3 separate regions of the Homo sapiens genome follow, and regions 1 and 3 are each linked to region 2. Evidence: fine-mapped expression QTL. A gene starts in region 2. Each other region holds a variant in brackets. All regions are shown on one strand. Distances are between the middles of the regions.

Region 1 (6,604 bases), 81 kb before region 2:
TGAAGACATTTCCTTATGTAATTACAAAACGATTAGTACACCTAACACAATTCACAATCATTCCTTACTGTCATCATAGTCAAATGAATGTCATTATATTCAGATGTTCCCAATTTAACTAAAAACATATTTGAAAAATTATTTACAAATAAAAAACATTTTTTTAAAATGCAGGGTCTTGTTCTGTCATCCAGGCTGGAGTGCAGCACAATCATAGCTCAAACTGTAACCTCAAGCTTCTGGGCTCCAGTGATCCTCCAGCTTCAGCCTCCCGAGTAGCTGGGCCTACAGGCATACACCACCACACCTGGCTAATTTTTATTTTTTTCAAAGCAGGAGTGAAAGTTTATTTAAAAGCTTTAGAACAGTAAGGAAAGGAAAGAAAAGAAGGAAAGTACAACTTGGAAGAGGGCTAAGTGGGTGACTTGAGAAACCAAGTGCACCTAATTTGAATTTTTTTTGTAGAGATAGAGTTTTGCTCTGTTGCCCAGTCTGGTCTCTAACTTCCAGCCTCAAGTGATCCTTCCATCTTGGCCTCACAAAGTGCTGGGATTACAGGTGTGAGCCACCACACCCGACCAAAATATATCTTTTAATAGTTAGATTGTTTGATTCAGGATCCAAACATTGACTTTTATGGTCACCACTTCCTTACTTTTCTTTAACATTTTACCACTTAAGCATGACTTCCTATTTGTGTAGTTTAGTTTTGCCTGTTTTTATTAACATCATAGAGTCGTACAGTATGTATTCTCTTGTGTTTGGTTTCTTTCATTCAACATTATGCTTTTAAGATTGATCCACGTTTTAACATATAGCTGTGCTTTATCTTCTTGCCTGTATAGTATTGAAATCAACCCAGTTTTTGCACTAAACTGAAAATTGAGAAACTTATATTTGTTTTTATCTGAGTTCCTTTCTCAGGAAACCAACCATCAGGCCTCCCAGAGAGAATCGAGGAACTGAAATCTCCCATATCACCACATCCAGACAATGAGACATGGCTGCTGCCTGTTGACAAACTCCTCTTCTTTATACCTCCCGAATTTCTGTTTTCCTGCATATGGTTACGGTGAGACACCAGACCCCTCATCCAACCACCTGCTGCCCGTTGACCAACTCCTCTTCCTTACTCCTCCCTAATTCTTGTTTTACGTTCCTTCCCTACTATATAAACCCCTAACTTTAGTCAATTGGAGAGATGGATTTGAGACTGGTCTCCCATCTCCTGGCTGACATTACTGGCATTAAAGCTGTTCTTCCCTGGCAATATTCATCTCAGTGATTGGCTTTCTGTGCGGCAAGCAACCAGGCCTAGGCTGAACCCCTGGTGTTCGGCAACAGTATTTCATTTTATGAATCTACCATAATCTGTCAACTCTACTTTTGAAAGGCATTTGGAACATTCTGATATTTAACTGTATAAACAATGCTGCAAGAACATTTTTGTACATATTTCCTGGTATACATAAGCAGACTTTTTTTTGTTTTGTTTTAAGACAGAGTCTTGCTCTGTCGCCCAGGCTGGAGTACAGTGGTGCAATCTCAGCTCACTGCAACCTCCACCTCCCAGGTTCAAGCCATTCTCCTGCCTCAGCCTCCCGAGTAGCTGGGACTACAGGTGTGCACCACCACACCCAGCTAATTTTTGTATTTGTAGTAGAGATGGGGTTTCACCATGTTGACCAGGCTGGTCTCGAACTCCTGACCTCAGGTGATTTGCCCACCTTGGCCTCCCAAAGTGCTGGGATTACAGGCATGAGCCACCGCACCCGGCCCTAAGCATACATTTCCGTAGGGTGTATGACTTATTGGGACAAAAGGTATGCACATCTTTAACTTTTCTAGCTAGTGTCAAACTTTTCTGAAGAAGTAGTTTTACTAATGTATATTCCAACCAGCAGAGTATGAAAGGTCCTATTATTCCACATATTTCCCAACCCTTGGAACAGTCAATTTTAAATTTTTGCCAAGCTGAGGATTGTAAAATGGTATCTCATGTGTGTTAAACAGGCATTTTCCTGATAATTAATGAAGTTGAGCACCTTTAATATTTTTTTCTTTTTAGAGACAGGGTCTTGCTCTGTTGCCCAGGCTGGAGTGCAGTAGCATGATCACAGCTCACTGCAGCCTTGAACTACAGGGCTGGGCTCAGGCAGTCCTCCTGCCTCAGGCTCCTAAGCAGCTGGGACTACAGGCATGCCACCATCATGCCTGGATATTAAAAAAAAAATTTGTAGAGATGGTCTCACTATGTTGCCCAGGCTGGTCTTCAACTCCTGGTCTCAACTGATCCTCCCACCTGGGCTTCCCAAGTTGCTGGGATTGCAGGCATGAGCCAGCACACCAGGCCTACCTTTTCATATTTTTTTACTGGCCATTCAAGTACTCTCTTGTAAAACTGTTCAACTCTTTCACATATTTTTCTATTGATTATCTATCTTTCTCTTGTTGAATTGTAGAACTTCATCTTACGATCTGGATATGGAATCTGATTTTAAGTGATGCAAACAAATTTTCCCATTTTGTGGTTTTCCTTTGTACCATTTATGGTGTCTCTGGGTGAAGAAGTTATTATTTTTGACGGAGTCAATTTTATCAGTCCTTTCTTTTCATGGTTTGTACTTTTGGTGTCTTGTTTAAGAAATCTTTTACCATCCCAGGCCCAGCGCGGTGGCTCATGCCTGTAATCCCAAGACTTTGGGAGGCCAAGGTGGGAGGATCACTTGAGGCCAGGAGTTTGAGACCAGCCTGGGCAATGTAGCAAGACCTCCCATCTCTATTTTTTAAAAAATAAATACTTTACTATTCTAATGTCAAGAATATACCCCATTTGTTACTTTCTTTGCTTTTCACACTTAGGTCTATAATCTACCTGGGAATCATTTGAGTTTTAAAAAATATATAATGTGACGTAAATACCCAATTTAGCTTTAGTTATTTATTATTATTTTTTTAACTGGGCACCCAATTGTCCCAGCACCATTTGTTGAAAAGACTGCCCTGCTCCCATGGCTCTACAGAGACACATTTTTGATAAATCAAGTATGCGAATATGCATGGATTCATCCTTCTTTTCTTTTTTCTTTTTTTTTGATGGAGTCTCGCTCTGTCACCCAGGCTGGAGTGCAGTGGCACAATCTCAGCTCACTGCAACCTCCGCCTCCCGGGTTCAAGCAATTCTTCTGCCTCAGCCTCCCAAGTAGCTGGGATTACAGGCACCTGCCATCACACCTGGCTAATTTTTGTATTTTTAGTACAGTCGGATTAGTAGAGTCGGAGTTTCACCATGTTTGCCAGGCTGGTCTCGAACTCCTGACCTCAAGTCATCCTCCTGCCTTGGCCTCCTAAAGTGCTGGGATTACAGGCGTGAGCCACCATGCCCGGCTGCCAGTACTACACTCTTAATTACTATAGCTTTATTTTTTTAAAAAACCCTTAACATCTGAGAGATCAAGTCCTCCATCATAGTTCTTCTTCAGGAGTCATGGCTATTCTTAACTTTTTCATTTC[T/C]ATTAATATATACATTTTAGAATCAGTCAAGTTCCACCAAAAGAAACAAACCAACCAACCCACCCATCAGGGTTTAATTGGAATCACATTGAATCTGTAGAGCTACTTGGGGAGAACTGGCATTCTTGTAATACTGAGTTCAGCAGCTTATGCATGTGAATATGGTATCTCACTTCATTTATTTACATCTTTTTTTTTTTTTTTGAGACAGAGTCTCACTCTGTCACCCAGGCTGGAGTGCAGTGGTGTGATCATGTCTCACTGCAGCCTTGACCTCCCAGGCTCAAGTGATCCCACCTTAGCCTCCCAAGTAGCTGGGACTATAGGTGCGTGACACCACACCCAGCTAATTAAAAAAAAATTTGTAGAGACAAGGTCTCACTCTGTTGCCGAGGCTAATGTTGAACTCCTGGGCTCAAGTGATCCTCCCGCGTTGGCCTCCCAAAGTGCTGGGATTACAGGCGTTATTTACTCTTTTTTTTTTCTTTTTCTTTTTTTGAGACAGTGTCTTACTCTGTCACCTAGGTTAGAGTGCAATAGTGCGATCTTAGCTCACTACAACCTCCGCCTCCCAGGCTCAAGTGATCCTCCTGCCACAGCTTCCCAAGTAGTTGGGACTACAAGCATACACCACCATACCTGGCTAATTTTTGTATTTTTTGCAGAGACAGGGCTTCACCATGTTGCCCAGGGTGGTCTTTTTTTTTTGAGATGAAGTTTCACTCTTGTCGCCCAGGATGGAGTGCAATGGCTCGATCCTGGCTCACTGCAACCTCTGCCTCCCGGATTCAAGTGATTCTTTTCTCTCAGCCTCCCGAGTAGCTGGGATTATAGGTGCACACCACCACGCCCAACTGATTTTTGTATTTTTAGTAGAGACGGGGTTTCACCATGTTGGCCAGGCTGGTCTCAAACTCCTGACCTCAGGTGATCCTCCTGCCTCGGCCTCCCAAATTACTGGGATTACGGGAGTGAGCCACCATGCCCGGCATTGGTCATCTTCCTTAATCTCTCTTTTGCAAGTGCTATAGTTTTCTCCAGAAAGGATTTACACATTGTCTGTTAGATTTATTCCTGGGATTTCTAGGTAAGTGATTTTTTAATGCTATTTAAATAATTTAATTTTTTGTTTTTCAGCTGTATTTGTTTTTATATAGAAATACAATAGAATTTCGTAAGCTGATTTTGTATTCAGCAAACTTTATTCCTGGGATATTTACCTCCATTCTTCAAATATTTTCTTTATTTATTTATGATTATACTCTAAGGCTATTATCAAAATGCGGACATTTCTCCATTTCTCTTGTTTTTTAAATTATTGTTTTCTATATTTTTATTCTTTCCTGCTGCTTTCTGGGAGAGGTCCTCAATCTGATCTCCCAATTCACTTATTCATTCTTCATCTGTGGTCAACCTGCTATTTGTCCCATCTATTGTGTTCTTTCTTTCAACTATATATTTTTCATAGCTAATATTTTCACTTTTCTGTGTCTGAAGGAAGGTGAAGGAAGACCCCAGAGAAGGTGGTGATGAACTGTCTGGAGAGATGAGTAGGGGTTTCTCAGGTTGTGAGAAGGAGGAGAATCCACCTCAGCAGTAGCTAAGGCCTAGAAACCAGACGGTGGGGCCCAGCTTGTCCTGCTGGGAACGGCTGGGGCACTGGAAGTAAGATGGGAGGGAGATCAGGTGGAGAAATGCAAGGCTTTATAGGGCCAGGGTCACTGGGGGTACCCTGACTTGCGACCCCCGCAGACTGTGATGGCCTCCAGAAAGACGGCAGCTTCAAGGCAGTGTTGGTCACCCAGTCCTCTGAGGTGAAGAGACCCACCCGCCCCCACCACCACATCATGCTCCAGCTCCATCCCCCTTTCCCCAGGGCACCTGCCAGAAGGTCCTCCCTCCCACCCTCCCTCCCTCCCTCTTCTTCCTCTCTTTTCTTTCTTTCCTCTTTTTCTTTTTTCTTTCTTCTTTTCTTCTATTTCTTCTTTTTATTTCTTTTTCTTTTCTTTCTTCTTTCCTTTCTTTTCTCTCTTCCTCTCTCTTTCTTTTTGAGACCGAGTCTCACTCTGTTGCCCAGGCTGGAGTGCAGTGGCACAATCTTGGCTCACTGCAACCTCCACCTCCCAGGTTCAAGTGATTCTCCTGCCTCAGCCTCCCAAGTAGCTGGGATTACAGACGCCCACCACCATGCCCGGCTAATTTTTAAATTTTTAGTAGAGACGGGGTTTCACCACGTTGGCCAGGCTGGTCTCGAACTCCTGACCTCAGGTGATCCACCTGCCTCGGCCTCCCAAAATGCTAGGATTACAGGCGCGAGCCACACTGTGCCCGGCCCCATCCTGTCTTTCTTGAGGAGGCAGGTTAAGTGGAGAAGGGGACCTAGTCCAGAGGGGTTTAGGAGCTCAGGTTGGCTACTGAGGGACTCAAGCTCTGGAGATGCCTTCAGGGCCAGTCTCCTCTCTGGCCATTTTATTTCCCCAACTACCACCAGGAGGTGCTGCTGGGATTGAACCCCTTCCTGCCCTTTACCTGGCATTTAGGCCTCATTCTCTTCTGAGGGCCTCCCTTCATCTCCCTGCCCTTGGTACGATGGCATCCCGTTTGGTCCTGGGATCAGCTCCAAATAGGAAGGCAGGTAAACAGCCAGACCTTTCCGCTAGACTAAGGCTTAAGGCCAGGCCAAGTCAGCGCCTGTGCATCCATTACTTCCTGCCACCCCTAATTGCAGACATCAGAGTCCCCAGCTGGGCCCGTCCTGCTATGTGGCCTATGTGGCTACCTGCTCAACCTGTAGCCTGGCTTGGGACAACCCCAATACTGATCCCTCTACATAACCAACCATTGCAGACCAAAAACAGAGGCCCAAGGGAGCAGAAAGGATCCCAGGAGGAGCAGGCACATTGAGGGGTACTCAGATGGGAAGGGCCACCCGCCCAGGAACTGCTGAACTGCCTGGGTGCAAGACCTCCCTGTGTCTCAGTGGAGACATCCCTCTGGCTGTTTCTCTGACTCTATTTGGAGGGAGTTTGAGGGTGATGAGAAGGATGGGAAGGGGGCTTGGTAAAAACGTGTTACTTTGTATTTATTTCAT
Region 2 (6,604 bases):
GCTGGGATTACAGGCATGTGCCACCATGTGGGCCTGGCTAATTTTTGTATTATTAGTAGAGACGGGGTTTTACCATGTTGGCCAGGCTGGTCTTGAACTCCTGACCTCAGGTGATCCACCCACCTCGGCCTCCCAAAGTGCTGGGATTACAGGTGTGAGCCACAGTGCCCGACCCATTTTTTACTGCTTTTTTTTTTGAGACAGGGTCTCGCTGTCACCCAGGCTGGAGTGCAGTGGTGCAATCCTGGCTCACTGTAACCTCTGCCTCCTGGGCTCAAGCAATCCTCCCATCTCAGCCTCCTAAGTAGCTGGGACCACAGGCGTGCACCACAACACCCGGCTAATTTTTGTATTTTTTGTAGAGACGGGGTTTCATCATGTTGGCCAGGCTGGTCTCGAACTCCTGGACTCAAGCGATCTGCCCACCTTGGCCTCCCAAAGTGCTGGGATTACAGGCGTGAGCCATCACACCCGGCCCTGTTTGGGGGGCATTTTTGACTGTGACAATAATTGGAGATCATCAGTGACAACCCTAGCTATGGACCAGGGATGCTCAGCCCTCTGCAGTGTACAGGACAGCTCCACACCACAAAGAATCATACCACATTCCATACAACTTTAGAATATCTCACCAGTAATGTAGGTGAAAAACCTGTTCATTTGTTCTTTTATTCATTCAACAAACATTCATTGAGAAAGTCTACTAGGTGTCAAGCACTATTTTAGGTAATAGGAATGTATCATAGAACAAAAAAGACAAAAATCCCTGCCCTTCTGGAGCTTATAATTGAGTGGGAGAGTCAGACAATAAACAGCAAACATACTAAGCAGTTAATGCTACACTGTGAAAAAGGTGTAGAATACCATGGAACAGACAGAGCAGGGGCATATTAGGGGAGAGCTGCAATTTTAAACAGGATGGTTGGGGGGCCCTCTGAGAAAGTGACAGCTGAGTAGAGGCCTGAAGGAAGCAAGGGCCTGAGCCTTGTGGGTATTTGAGGAAAGAGCATTCCAGATACACGGAATGCAAAACCCCTGAGGCGGAAGTGTGCCTAAGGTGTTCAAGTAATAGTAAGGTGGCCAGCATGGGTAGATAGAGTGAGCAAGGGGGGAGAGTGGTGGGAGATAAGGTCAGGGAGATTAAGAGGGTCTCATCATGGATATTAATATATACTGATTTTTCCAGAAATTTAACGACCATATAAACTGAGAAACTCTTCCACATTGTTTTGTTTAGAACTTTGTGAAGAATTGTTCATTATTTAGGAAAACTGTGTCACTCTACCTGTGGCTTCTGAATCACCAATCAACACACATGTAGCTGTCACTATCATTAAGTGTAAGACCATTTCATCATGTCTTCTAATGGAGTCATATCCCAGTCTTTGCATATATATGTGCGATATATGTATAATATAATATTATATATTACTCTTCCTTTACTACTCTCTATATTACAATTAGGGCATTATATTGGTTTTCAGGGAATTATGGGTGTAGACAGATTCTATTTTCTATCCATTTCATTTTAGAATAGTGAAGCATTTCAAAATACACCTTATTAAAAAAAAAAAGCAATGTTGGGTCCAACAGGTATGAGAACGACCAAAGCATAGCAAGAAAATAAAGGGAGTATTCAGAAGCCAGGATGAGAATGGAGGGAATTTTGCTGATAACTGAAGGTGAGTTCCTTAAGGCCTGGTCAAAGGATTTCAGGATGGAAATAGAAAATAGGATGTCCAGGGCTGTATGGAGACATAACCAGGAGATCTGTGGGCTTCCTGTGGTGACTAACATTATATAGGATAAGGGGCTATTAAAAAGTGGTTTTTAATCTAAGTTGCTCCCAACTTTGGGTGTCTCTACCTGTTTAACAGAGTAGGCTGGGGAGCAAAGAGAGTTCTCTCTTCAATGACACCAGAAGCAACCCAAAGCCAGGCTCCATTTTTTACCCACAGAACAGGTCGGAGCCCCAGGCTAAGCTCATGTCCTCGGGGGTAAAACTTATTGCTATAAACTATGCACCTCTAACCTCTTTAGGGTTGAGAAAGAGACGGGTAAAAAGAGGAAAAACAGTAACAGAGAAAGACAGAAGCATTCAGAAAGATCCAATGGAGGAAGGGTCAGAGACAGAGAAAAGACAGAAACCAAGAGAGACAATATTCTTTTCAGTCAAGATAGTCATTATTTATTGAAAATTTTCTAAGGACCGGGTGCAGGGCAAAGTAATGCACATGCATTGTCTCAGGTACACATTATCAGACCCCCATTTGGCAGATGAGGAAACTGAGGCCCAGGCTGGTGAAGGAGATAGCTCAAGGTTTCATAGCTAGTTTAAACTGGTCAGGATTCAGCATCTTATATCTACTACGTCTCAAAAAGTGGGACAGAGACAGAGATGGGAGAGGGGATGCAAAGACAGACACGCACGCAGACGATCACGTGAGCGGCAGACCTGCATGGAACCGTTTCGAAAGACACTGAGGGTGGGAGGTGGGGCCGCGGGAGGGCAGCAACGGGCACCGACCGCTCCGCAGGGTACTCACCTGGTTGCAGTCTGGGAGCCGCAGGAGCACTCGGCTTCCCTTTGCGACCCGCACGATCCTCCGCAACCCGCTGACCTAGGGTTGAGAGGCCGCCCCAGTAAAAGCTCGCGCAGGCCCCACCCCTCGCGCGCTTCGGCCGGCCTCTTCCCGCTGCCACTCCCCCCACCGCCCCGTCTTTATGGCTTCTCACCGTACACCTCCGGCCGTCGCCGCCGCCGCCCCTGCCGCGCGCGCACAGACACCAGAGGCCTACAGCAAGATCTGAAGGATACGCTGGACGGAACCCTTCCACGGGCTGCAGCGCGAGCAGGGGCACGGGCCTACGCCGCTACCGACGGCTCCCCGGCTCCCATTGGAGGAGTGCCCTTCTGCCTTTCCAGGGATTGGCTGGGGATGGAAACATTTTATTTTTACCCCCGAGGCTTAGAGCCAAACCGAGGAAAACTCCGCCCCTTCGGGGGACTTTGATTGGTTAAAGAGCCAAGCCCACCCTTTAATAGGATTGGCCAGGAAAGGAGTGCTTGTCATGGCCCTTTGCCTGTCTATTCGACAGGTCTTCAGGCGGCTACTTGGGAATACGCAGGCGGGAAGCCGGAAGCCACGCCAGGCGCCGAGTCACTGCACAATCGAGATGCCTGGCTTCTTTGACGTTTTACTCTCCATAAGCCACCTTGCACTGCCACCGCTCTGCTAAGAGACGCGATTCTGCCCCTAGTTTCTCACAGTTCCACACCCACCTGCAGAGATTCCTAAGCCAGGTTTCTCTCGCTCAAAGTGAGCAGAGTTCCTTATTCCATGCATGGAGGATGAGGTGGCTATGGGGATGTGGCGTGTCACCTACCAGTCCCTGATACCTGCTGAGACATTGGTCAAGTGACAACCTCGCTAGGAGCCTCAGTTTAACCATCTGGAAATGGAAAGATGTTTTAAAATTTTCCTCACAATGTGTGAGGATTAAATGAGAGGGCAAATATAGATCAGTTGCCTGGGGCATAAATAATTAAGTTCTCTCCTCCCAATTCTTTCCCAGTATTCAGGCGGACAGAACTTATGGCCCAGAGAGGCAAACTGACTGGCTTGAAGTCACACAGCCAGGCCCCACCCCTCGCGCGCTCCGGCCCTGCCTCTTCCCGCTACCACTCCCCACCACCGCCCCGTCTTTGCGTCTTCTTACCGTACACCGCCGGCAGTCGGCGCAGTAAGACCCAGAATAAAACCCAGGCTTCCAAAGGAAAACTGTTTAAGAAGGAAGGAGAGATGGGAAGGACCCTCCTATTTGCAAGGGTTCTTAATTTGTATTCTGCAGACCTCTAATCGAGGCTGGGGACAGGGTTTGGAGAGGTCCATGAATTTGGATGGGAACAAATTTACACCTTTATGGCCGGGCGCAGTGACTCATGCCTGTAATCCCAGCACTTTGGGAGGCCGAGGCGGGCGGATCACCTGAGGTCGGAGTTCGAGACCAGCCTGACCAACATGGAGAAACCCCATCTCTACTAAAAATACAAAATTAGCCGGGCGTGGTGGCACATGCCTGTAATCCCAGCTACTAGGGAGGCTGAGGCAGGAGAATCGCTTGAACCTGGGAGGCGAAGGTTGCCGTGAGCTGAGATCGTACCATTGCACTCCAGCCTGGGCAACAAGATTGAAACTCCGTCTCAAAAAAATAAAACAAAATTACATCTTTATTTTCCCTCTCCTCTAACTGAAATTTAGCATTTTTCAATAAAGAATGTAACTAGGCATAGTAGCAGCAGTAGTAGCAGTACTGATTGTCACTAATAGAAATCAGAGATTTTCATATCACATTATAGATGTTGCAGATCTCTTGAAAATCATATAATTTCAATCATTATTTTAAAATCATGATAGTCATTAGACCCTCCATTAAATCTTATGATTTAATGGATTAATGGGGAGTACATATACGATTATACTATAGCACATATTTGCTTTTTCCATATTTTAATAACTATATTTCAATGTAATCAATTTCTTTTGTAATTCTAGATATTTTATTTTATGAATTTAAACAATTTTTTTTTTCTGAGAAAAGGTCTGGTGGGGCATGGTGGCTCATGCCTGTAATCCCAGAACTTTGGGAGGTCGGAGGCGGGTGAATCACCTGAGGTCAGGAGTTCCCGACCAGCCTGGCCAACATGGTGAAACCCTGTCTCTACTAAAAATACAAAAATTAGCCGGGCGTGGTGGCGGGCGCCTGTAATCCCAGCTACTCGGGAGGCTGAGGCAGGAGAATTGCTTGAACCCAGGAGGTGGAGGTTGCAGTGAGCCGAGATCGCACCATTGCACTCCAGCCTGAGCAACAAGAGTGAGACTCCATCTAAAAAAAAAAAAAAAAAAGAAAAGAAAAGAAAAAGAAAGGTCCCATTAGGCTTCACTAGATCACCAAAGGGGTCCATGGCACAAAAAATATTAAGAATATTTGTCTTGAACTCTAGGCTCCAGGAGGAAAAAGACTTGCTCTATTGGCTGGGTGCGGTGGCTCACGCCTGTAATCCCAGGACTTTGGGAGGCCGAGGCGGGCTGATCATGAGGTCAGGAGATCGAGACCATCCTGGCTAACATGGTGAAACCCCGTCTCTATTAAAAATACAAAAAATTAGCCGGGCGTGGTGGCAGGCGCCTGTAGTCCCAGCTACTCGGGAGGCTGAGGCAGGAGAATGGCGTGAACCCGGCAGGCGGAGCTTGCAGTGAGCGGAGATTGTGCCACTGCACTCCAGGCTGGGCAACAAAGAAAAAAAAAAAAAGACTTGCTCTATCTTGTTTCCCTGCTGTATCCCTATCACCCAGTTCAGTACTTCAGGCACACAGTAAGTACTCATAAGTGTTTACTGAATGAATAATAGGATTCCTTCCCAACCATCCTGCACACCCCCAACTGGGGGAGCCAGTGCCAGCCCTTTGGGTCACCTAAGGAGGGACATTCTTGAATCTAGTTTTGTCCCTGCCAATCCGATTCTACTCACAGAAGTAGGTGGCACTTTAAAGGTCTGGTCCCAGGAAATCCCAGGAACCTCCCACCCAGGAGCAGGGCCCTCTGCTGCAAAGGAGCGAGGGCAAGCTAGGAAGCATATGAAGACAAGTAGTTTCAACATGGGAACAGGCCCTAGGGCACATTGGGCCCATGACTCTTCATCCTCCTGGTTTCTGTTTAAGGTCTCAGCCAATGGGGCCTGTCTTCTCTGGCCTTCAGCGAAGACAGTATCTTGGAGCTAGATGTGACCTTAAAGACCTAGAACAGCCCTCTCTTTCGGAGGTCCAGACTGAAGAGTGAGGGCACAGGGAACAAGATGTTACTCTGGGCAAAGAACATCCTGTCCTCACATGGCTCAGCCGAGGACATGAGCACCCTGGCCAACTATACTAGAATACTATGATTGACTCTTAAGAGCATCACTGAAGATGAAGACCAGAGGCCCTCTCTAACAGGGTGGGTGAAGAAGAGTCTCAAATGCCAGGATGAGGGGCTGGGGATTTGATTGGGGGGACAGAGAGGAATCAGGGAAGAGCACAGTGAAGGCCAGACTTCAGAGACCTGCTTCAAGGCTAGACTCTGTCTTGAGACCTTAGGCAGGTTGCTTCTCCTGGACTGATCCCCCTGCACGATAAGCCTCAGTTTATAGATAGGAAAACTGAGGCCCTCTAGAGAGGACAAGGAGAGTCATGTTGTGAGGTAGGGCAGACTGAGGCAAGAGTAACCAGACTGGCTACTCTGGCTCTGATTGGCTGGGATCCTTTGGCAGGCTGACCTCTTTCTGGCCTACTCCGGCCTACTCCATTGCCTTTGCCCCTGCTGCTTTCCCCTCCCCTCCTCTTCACCGCATACTCATTGGGGTTGGCTCCAGATATTGCATGTAGATGTCTCTTTTCTCTGGGATCCTGCACTCTCAGCTCTGGCCTCGAGGTATTGTGTTACTTTGGGCAAGACATTCCCCTTTCTGGGCCTCAGTCCTCCCTGCCCACCTCTGACAGCACATCAAAGCCTCCATCCTGTCCCCCCCAAAACATTTATCAGAATCATTGGAGAGACATGTCAA
Region 3 (6,292 bases), 140 kb before region 2:
CCCTTGGCATCACAAAGAACAAGTGTTGTACCTCTGCTCCAAGACAGCTCTCCAGGGATTTGAGGACTCTCTTGATCCTGTTCTCCCTGTGGTCTTCTCTCCTTTAGAGCAGGGTTTCTCAGTCTCATCACTGTTGACATTTGGGGCTGGATAATTCTTTGCGGGGACTGTCCTGTGCACTGTAGGATGTTTAGCAGCACCCTGGTCTCTACCTACTAGGTGCTAGTAGCAACCCTTCAACCAAAAATGTCTCCAGATGTTGCTCCGTGTCCTCTGGGGGCAATATCACCCCCAGTTGAGCATTGCTGCTTTAGCCGAAGTATTTCCATGCTCCCTCTGAGCCTTAGTTTCCTCCTCTGTGAAATGGAACTAACCCCTACTTCACAGGATTGTCATGAGGATGAAATGAAATAAGAGGTTATATGTGGAATCTGCCCTACCCCAGGGAGTACCTGGCCCACACAGTCAATGTGTAGACATCCCTCAGGTACTGAAACTGGTGTATGTCCAGCTCTATGCTAGGCACTGGGTATGCCAGGATGAATCAGACTTAGTCCCTGTTCTCAGGGAGCTCACAGCCCAAAGGACCTAAAAAAGTGCTTTGCGTCATTGTGCCATCCTGAAATCAAAACATTTCCTTTTACGAGCCACTTGCAGACCGCCTGAGGTGTTTGCAGCCTGTGTTAGTTGAGTCCAGAGTGCCCAAGTACTCGACAAAGATATTGGGTTGTTGAGAGGAAGACTTATTAACTCTCTACATGGGTTCAGCAGAGATTGCCATTAAGTGCAGGCTCTGGTAAGGCCTGGTGACAGAACCCGACAACCAGACTCCTGCCCTCCAGTCCAGCAGGGGGCGATCACACACTCAGAGGACTAGCATAGTGCCTGACAAGGGAAAGGCACTGAATCACCATTCTGGAGCTCAGAAAAGGGGTTTACAAATCTCTGTGGGATGTTGGAGCAGGCTTCCTGGAGGAAGCAGGATTCAGTTAGTTTCTGGAAATGTGGTAAATGTCTGTGGTGCGTGGTCATTACATCAGGAACTTGCGTTTTCTTCCATGTCTCCCATTCTGTCCCTCAAGCTTCCATTCTCCCCAGCTTGTGGGCATGTGTGTTTGTGTGTGTGTGTCTGTTAATGGGGTGGGAGGGGAGGGTGGTTACCAGAAATAGGTGCCACGTGGAAATCCCCCACCCAAAGCGCTGCCTCTTGTCTTTTTCCCACCCCTGCCAAAGGTCACCAAAATTTTCCAGAAGAAGAAGATCTTGGTGACGTACAGTTTCCGTCAGTCTTTCCCCCTCGTGGAAATGCACATGCAGCTCTTCCAGAATTCATGTGAGTCCCTTCTTGGATCCCAGCTCCTGAGAGTCTATGTCATGGCCCCCATGCTCACCCGTCATCTATACCAGCTCCAGTTTTCGGAGTCCCTTACAACCGGACTAAGGGTCTCCAAAGCACCTACTTGGTCCCAGGATGAGGGGCAGGCCAGGGTGGAGTATGACTTGGGTCTAGCCCCTGGTTAGCTCATGGTCTTGCAGAGAACCACAGTGCATGTGTTCTCTGGTGGGCCAAAGAGACGGTGATCATGCTGTGCTCTGAAGGATGAACCAGGAGGAGCTTTGTTGCGTGGTATTCCTGGCAGCAGAAGCAATGTGAGTTGAGGCAGAGGTGAGAAGGAAAGGGTTTCGAGAGAGCAGTGCATAGTTGTGTGCCTTTACATCCTGCAGTACAGGGAGTAAGAGGGCCACAGCTACCAGGAGTTTGAGGGCTTTGGGGCAAAGGGGAGCTGCTAAACATGCTCAAGCAGAGAAGAGGCATGATCAGAGTTAGACAGTAGAAAAATTATTTCATGGGCTAGGCATGGTGGCTCACACCTGTAATCCCAGCACTTTGGGAGGCCAAGGCAAGAGGATCGCTTGAGCCCAGGAATTCGAAACCAGCCTGGGCAACATAGTGAGACCCCATCTCTACTGAAAATAAAAAAAAATCTGCGCATGTGGTGCGTGCCCATGGTCCCAGCTACCCAGGAGGCTGAGGCAGAAGGATCACTTGAGCCCAGGAGTTCAAGGCTGCAGTGAGCCATGATGGCACCACTGCACTCCAGCCTGGGTGACAGAGAGATGTTGTCTCAGAAAAAAAAGAGCAGAAAAGAAAAATTATTTTATGTATGAGCCACCTTGCACCAGTCCCAACAGAGGTGCCCAGTCTCCCCTTTCTCCACAGATTACCAGTTTGGGATCAAGTTGCTGTCTGCAGTACCTGGTGGGGAGCGAAAAGTCCTCATCATCTTCAATGCCCCCAGCCTCCAGGACCGGCTGCGCTTTACATCCGACCTGCGCGAGTCCATTGCGGAGGTGCAGGAGATGGAGAAATACCGTGTGGAGTGTGAGTAGCCCAGCCATGTCTCCTCCCTGCTCTCCTGAAACAGTACCCTGCAGAAACCAAGAATCCTATCCTCAGAGAATCTCAGAGTTGAGGGTTAGCTTGTCCAACCTTCCCATCCTCATTTCAAGAATTCTTCAGCCTCTGCTTGAATACCTTCAGTGACAAGGGGCTCATTACCTCCCAACCCCATTATTATCCTGAACTCTAATTATGAGCCAACTATTCCTTCTAGTGAAAGGTATCAGGGAGAAGAATCAGAGTATTGGAGGTAGGACTATAGTTTTAGATCCCAGGTATACTACTCATTATCTGGGTGAACTGCAGCAAATTGCCTAACCTGCCAAGCCCCAGTTTCTTCCTATACGAAATTGGGGTAATGAAGTCTCCTTCACAGAGTCATGGAGATGAAATGAGACAAGGTAGCCGAAATGTCCCAACACATCTTAGGCATTCAAAAAATCCGTATTTCCTGTCCCACCCTCTCTCCTCCTCTGCCCACATATCAATTCCTGAGCTGAATCCCAGTGGGCTATCCTCTCAGCCCCCAGGGGCCACACCAAGTCATTTTGATCATATATATATAATGGAAAATAGTGATTACATCTCATTCCTCCCGATGCCCTCCAAGTTTTCTCTTCTCCAGGCTAAGCAGTCACAGTTAAGTAACATGGTGTTAAGGAGAAAGAGGCAGGCAGACAGAGACGAGGCGGCGGACAGCTCCTTGGTGAGGCCTTCACAGCTCCAGGGCCACTCTACTTCTCAGCGAGGCAGGGATAGAAATTTCAGTTCACCAGATCCTTTGAGACCCTGGGGAAATCCTGAGAGAGGGATTAGTAGCCCAAGACGAGGGGAGGCCAGTAGACACGTGTTTCTATGAGCTCCGTGGGGAGGTGGGGCTGTAGGAGGCCGGAAGCACCCAAGCTCTGGAATCAGGCAGACCTGCTTCCAGAATGTCGGCTCTGCCATTTCCAGCTGTATGACCCTGGGCAAGCTCTAAGACTTCTCGGATACTCAGTTTCTTCCTCTGCACAATGTGGATGCTAATACTGACCTCAGAACTGTTGTGAGGACTGAGAGAGATCAAGTATGTGTAGCGCCCAGCATACTGCCTGGCACATAATAAGAGGATTTGATTCCTGTCAGTTTCCTGCTCCTGCCCTTCCAGGAGCCCCTCTGCTCCGGAGCAAGGTATCTGAGAACTGACTGAACTCTGGAAAGATTGCCCTTTGCCATAGGCTAGAAGGGCCTTACCATCCTTACTGTGAACCATCTGCCATGAAGCTCTTTTTTGAAGGGCAGGGGTGCTTTGGGAGACCTGATTGCAAGAGGGCATGGGAGGGGAGAAGTCAGAAGGGTGAAAGGAAGGGAAAGGGAACAGGGAGAGCAGGCACCAAGAGGGATGAAGGGAAGGCTGAGCAGGAAGGGAGGGTGCAAGACAGGAGCTGGGCACTAAGGGTGCTTCGGTGATGGAGCTGCAGTTTTGGGGGAGAC[A/G]AGGGCTGGTCGTCCAAGGGGCAAAACACGAAGCCTGGGGACAGAGGGAGGGAGGAGGGAGGAGGAAGGAGAATGGCCCATGGAGGGCTAGGGTCAGTCAGATGGGCTCTCACTCCTGTTCCTGACCTTTGCTCCCTGTCTCCCCGACTGCCACCCAGCGGAGCTGGAGAAGCAGAAAGGTATGATGCGGCCTAACGCCTCACAGCCTGGAGGGGCCAAGGACTCAGTGAATGGGACGATGGCCCGCAGTAGCCTGGAGGACACTTACGGGGCAGGCGATGGGCTCAAACGGGGCGCACTCAGCAGTTCCCTGCGAGACCTCTCTGATGCAGGTAAGCCCTCTGGGCCCCTGCCCTGGCTGGGGAGACACGGGACCGGGTGTCCTCTTTGCCTCCTGTCACTGGCCGCCAGCCTTCCCTCCACCTGCCACACATGCACGCACCCTGCCTTCACCCAGAGCCCTGGGCGCTGCGCCACAGGGGGCCTGGGAGCCAGGTCAGAGCAGGGGGAGCCCAGCTTTTGGGCCAGGGAGTGTGAAGTGGGGCCACAGTCTTGGTCCCTCTCTCTCGCTGCTCCCCCTCTCCTCCTCTTCTCCCTCTTCTGTCTCTCCTGTACCTCCACTCCTCCTTCTCCATCTTTTCCTCCTCTTTCTCCTCCTTCTCCACCTCTCCTCCTCCCCGCCTCCCCCTCTTCAATGGGGGAAAGGGATAATGGGGTGTCTGTCCCCGGGAGGGGCCCAGTCCTGGTGCCCAGCTCTGGAGCCCAGCAGGGTAGGGGGGGGGTTGCTGCTCTGACGCTGGGCTCCTTGCTTGTGGGTGCAGGGAAGCGGGGGCGGCGTAACAGCGTGGGATCGCTGGACAGCACCATCGAAGTAAGTGCCAGCTCCTGCCCCACTCGTCCTCTGCATGAGCCCTGCCCCGGCCATGGAGACCCAGAGGAGGAGGGGACCTGTTGCTCCCCCTCTTCCCTGCTGGGAACCATGCGGCTGCCTCTCCCAGCCAACCACTCTCTCCATCTGTCCTCAACTCTGTCTGTCCTCATTCTGCCTGTCTCTCAGTCTGTCTTCCACTCTCCCGTGCCCCCTCTCAACCCCAGGGCCGACGGCGAGTAGGGATGCCCTTGGAGTTGGGCCACGAGAAGCTCTTACCTCCAAGTCCTGCTCTTTGACCCTGGGCGAGTCACTCTGCCTCTCTGGGCCTAACCTTTTCCCTGCCTGCAAAATGGGGATGAGGAGGAGGTACTGCTAATTTCTCCTCTCCCAGCTGAGGCTCAGCTGAGATAGTGGATGTGACAGCCGAGCTTTGCAAGCTGGGGAGCTCCACATACGCGTACCGGACTGTGATTTGGTTTTTATTACAACTTGGGGTTTGCTGTCTCCCCAGCTCCAGCCCTCAGGGACAGGGGTGGAATTTAGGGCTGGGGGTTTAGGGCATCTAGCCTGGCCTGACTTCCCCCCTCCCCGCTTCCAGGGGTCTGTTATTAGCAGTCCACGCCCTCACCAGAGGATGCCACCTCCGCCCCCACCCCCGCCGCCAGAGGAGTACAAGAGCCAGAGGCCCGTCTCCAACTCCTCATCCTTCCTGGGCTCCCTATTTGGAAGCAAGCGGGGCAAGGGGCCCTTCCAGATGCCACCACCGCCAACAGGCCAGGCCTCTGCCTCCTCTTCATCTGCTTCTTCCACGCACCACCACCACCACCACCACCATCATGGCCATAGCCACGGTGGCCTGGGGGTGCTGCCTGATGGGCAGTCCAAGCTCCAGGCCCTGCATGCCCAGTATTGCCAAGGACCGGGCCCTGCCCCGCCACCCTACCTCCCACCCCAGCAGCCCTCTCTTCCCCCACCTCCCCAGCAGCCCCCACCCTTGCCCCAGCTGGGCTCCATTCCACCGCCTCCCGCCTCAGCCCCACCTGTGGGGCCACATCGCCACTTCCACGCCCATGGCCCAGTCCCAGGGCCCCAACACTATACCTTGGGCCGGCCAGGCAGGGCACCCAGACGGGGGGCTGGAGGACACCCTCAGTTTGCTCCACATGGCCGCCACCCCCTGCACCAGCCCACATCCCCACTGCCCCTGTACAGTCCTGCCCCCCAGCACCCTCCAGCCCACAAACAGGGCCCTAAGCACTTCATCTTCAGCCACCACCCACAGATGATGCCAGCAGCAGGCGCGGCTGGGGGCCCTGGATCCCGGCCACCAGGGGGCTCCTACTCCCACCCCCACCACCCCCAGTCACCATTGTCACCACACTCACCCATCCCACCCCACCCCTCCTATCCACCCCTCCCCCCACCCTCCCCTCACACCCCGCACTCACCCCTTCCACCCACCTCCCCCCATGGCCCGCTGCACGCCTCTGGGCCCCCTGGCACAGCCAACCCCCCCAGTGCAAACCCCAAGGCCAAGCCAAGCCGGA

Which allele goes with the higher level. Alleles are on the strand shown, and positions count from the first base shown. SD is a standard deviation of normalised expression in the study named. Not every link is listed here.
As copies of A replace G in region 3, the expression in stomach of the gene that starts at base 2,879 in region 2 goes down (moderate effect, 0.42 SD a copy in GTEx).

The links. PIP is the estimated chance that this variant, and not a neighbour inherited with it, causes the effect.
Region 1: its variant is the best candidate, but not a certain one, in a credible set for the expression of KANTR in whole blood (TOPMed, PIP 0.86).
Region 3: its variant is the best candidate, but not a certain one, in a credible set for the expression of KANTR in stomach (GTEx, PIP 0.80).

Annotation. Positions count from the first base shown.
Region 1 is chrX:53,170,943-53,177,546 of GRCh38, reverse strand. It overlaps a transcript of KDM5C not described here. Among named protein-coding and RNA genes, the nearest start is that of MIR6895, 21 kb to the left of the region's middle. The variant T/C (reference allele first, on the strand shown) is at 3,514.
Region 2 is chrX:53,090,417-53,097,020 of GRCh38, reverse strand. It overlaps KANTR (KANTR integral membrane protein), which reads right to left and starts at 2,879. Exons shown (of 3, transcript NM_001397448.1): 1 at 2,737-2,879. RefSeq lists a silencer at 2,551-2,700 and enhancers at 2,761-2,880, 3,191-3,250, 2,963-3,787.
Region 3 is chrX:53,234,236-53,240,527 of GRCh38, reverse strand. IQSEC2 (IQ motif and Sec7 domain ArfGEF 2) reads left to right here. Exons shown (of 15, transcript NM_001111125.3): 11 at 1,234-1,333; 12 at 2,222-2,383; 13 at 4,033-4,206; 14 at 4,696-4,745; 15 at 5,344-6,292. Among named protein-coding and RNA genes, the nearest start is that of KDM5C, 12 kb to the right of the region's middle. The variant A/G (reference allele first, on the strand shown) is at 3,875.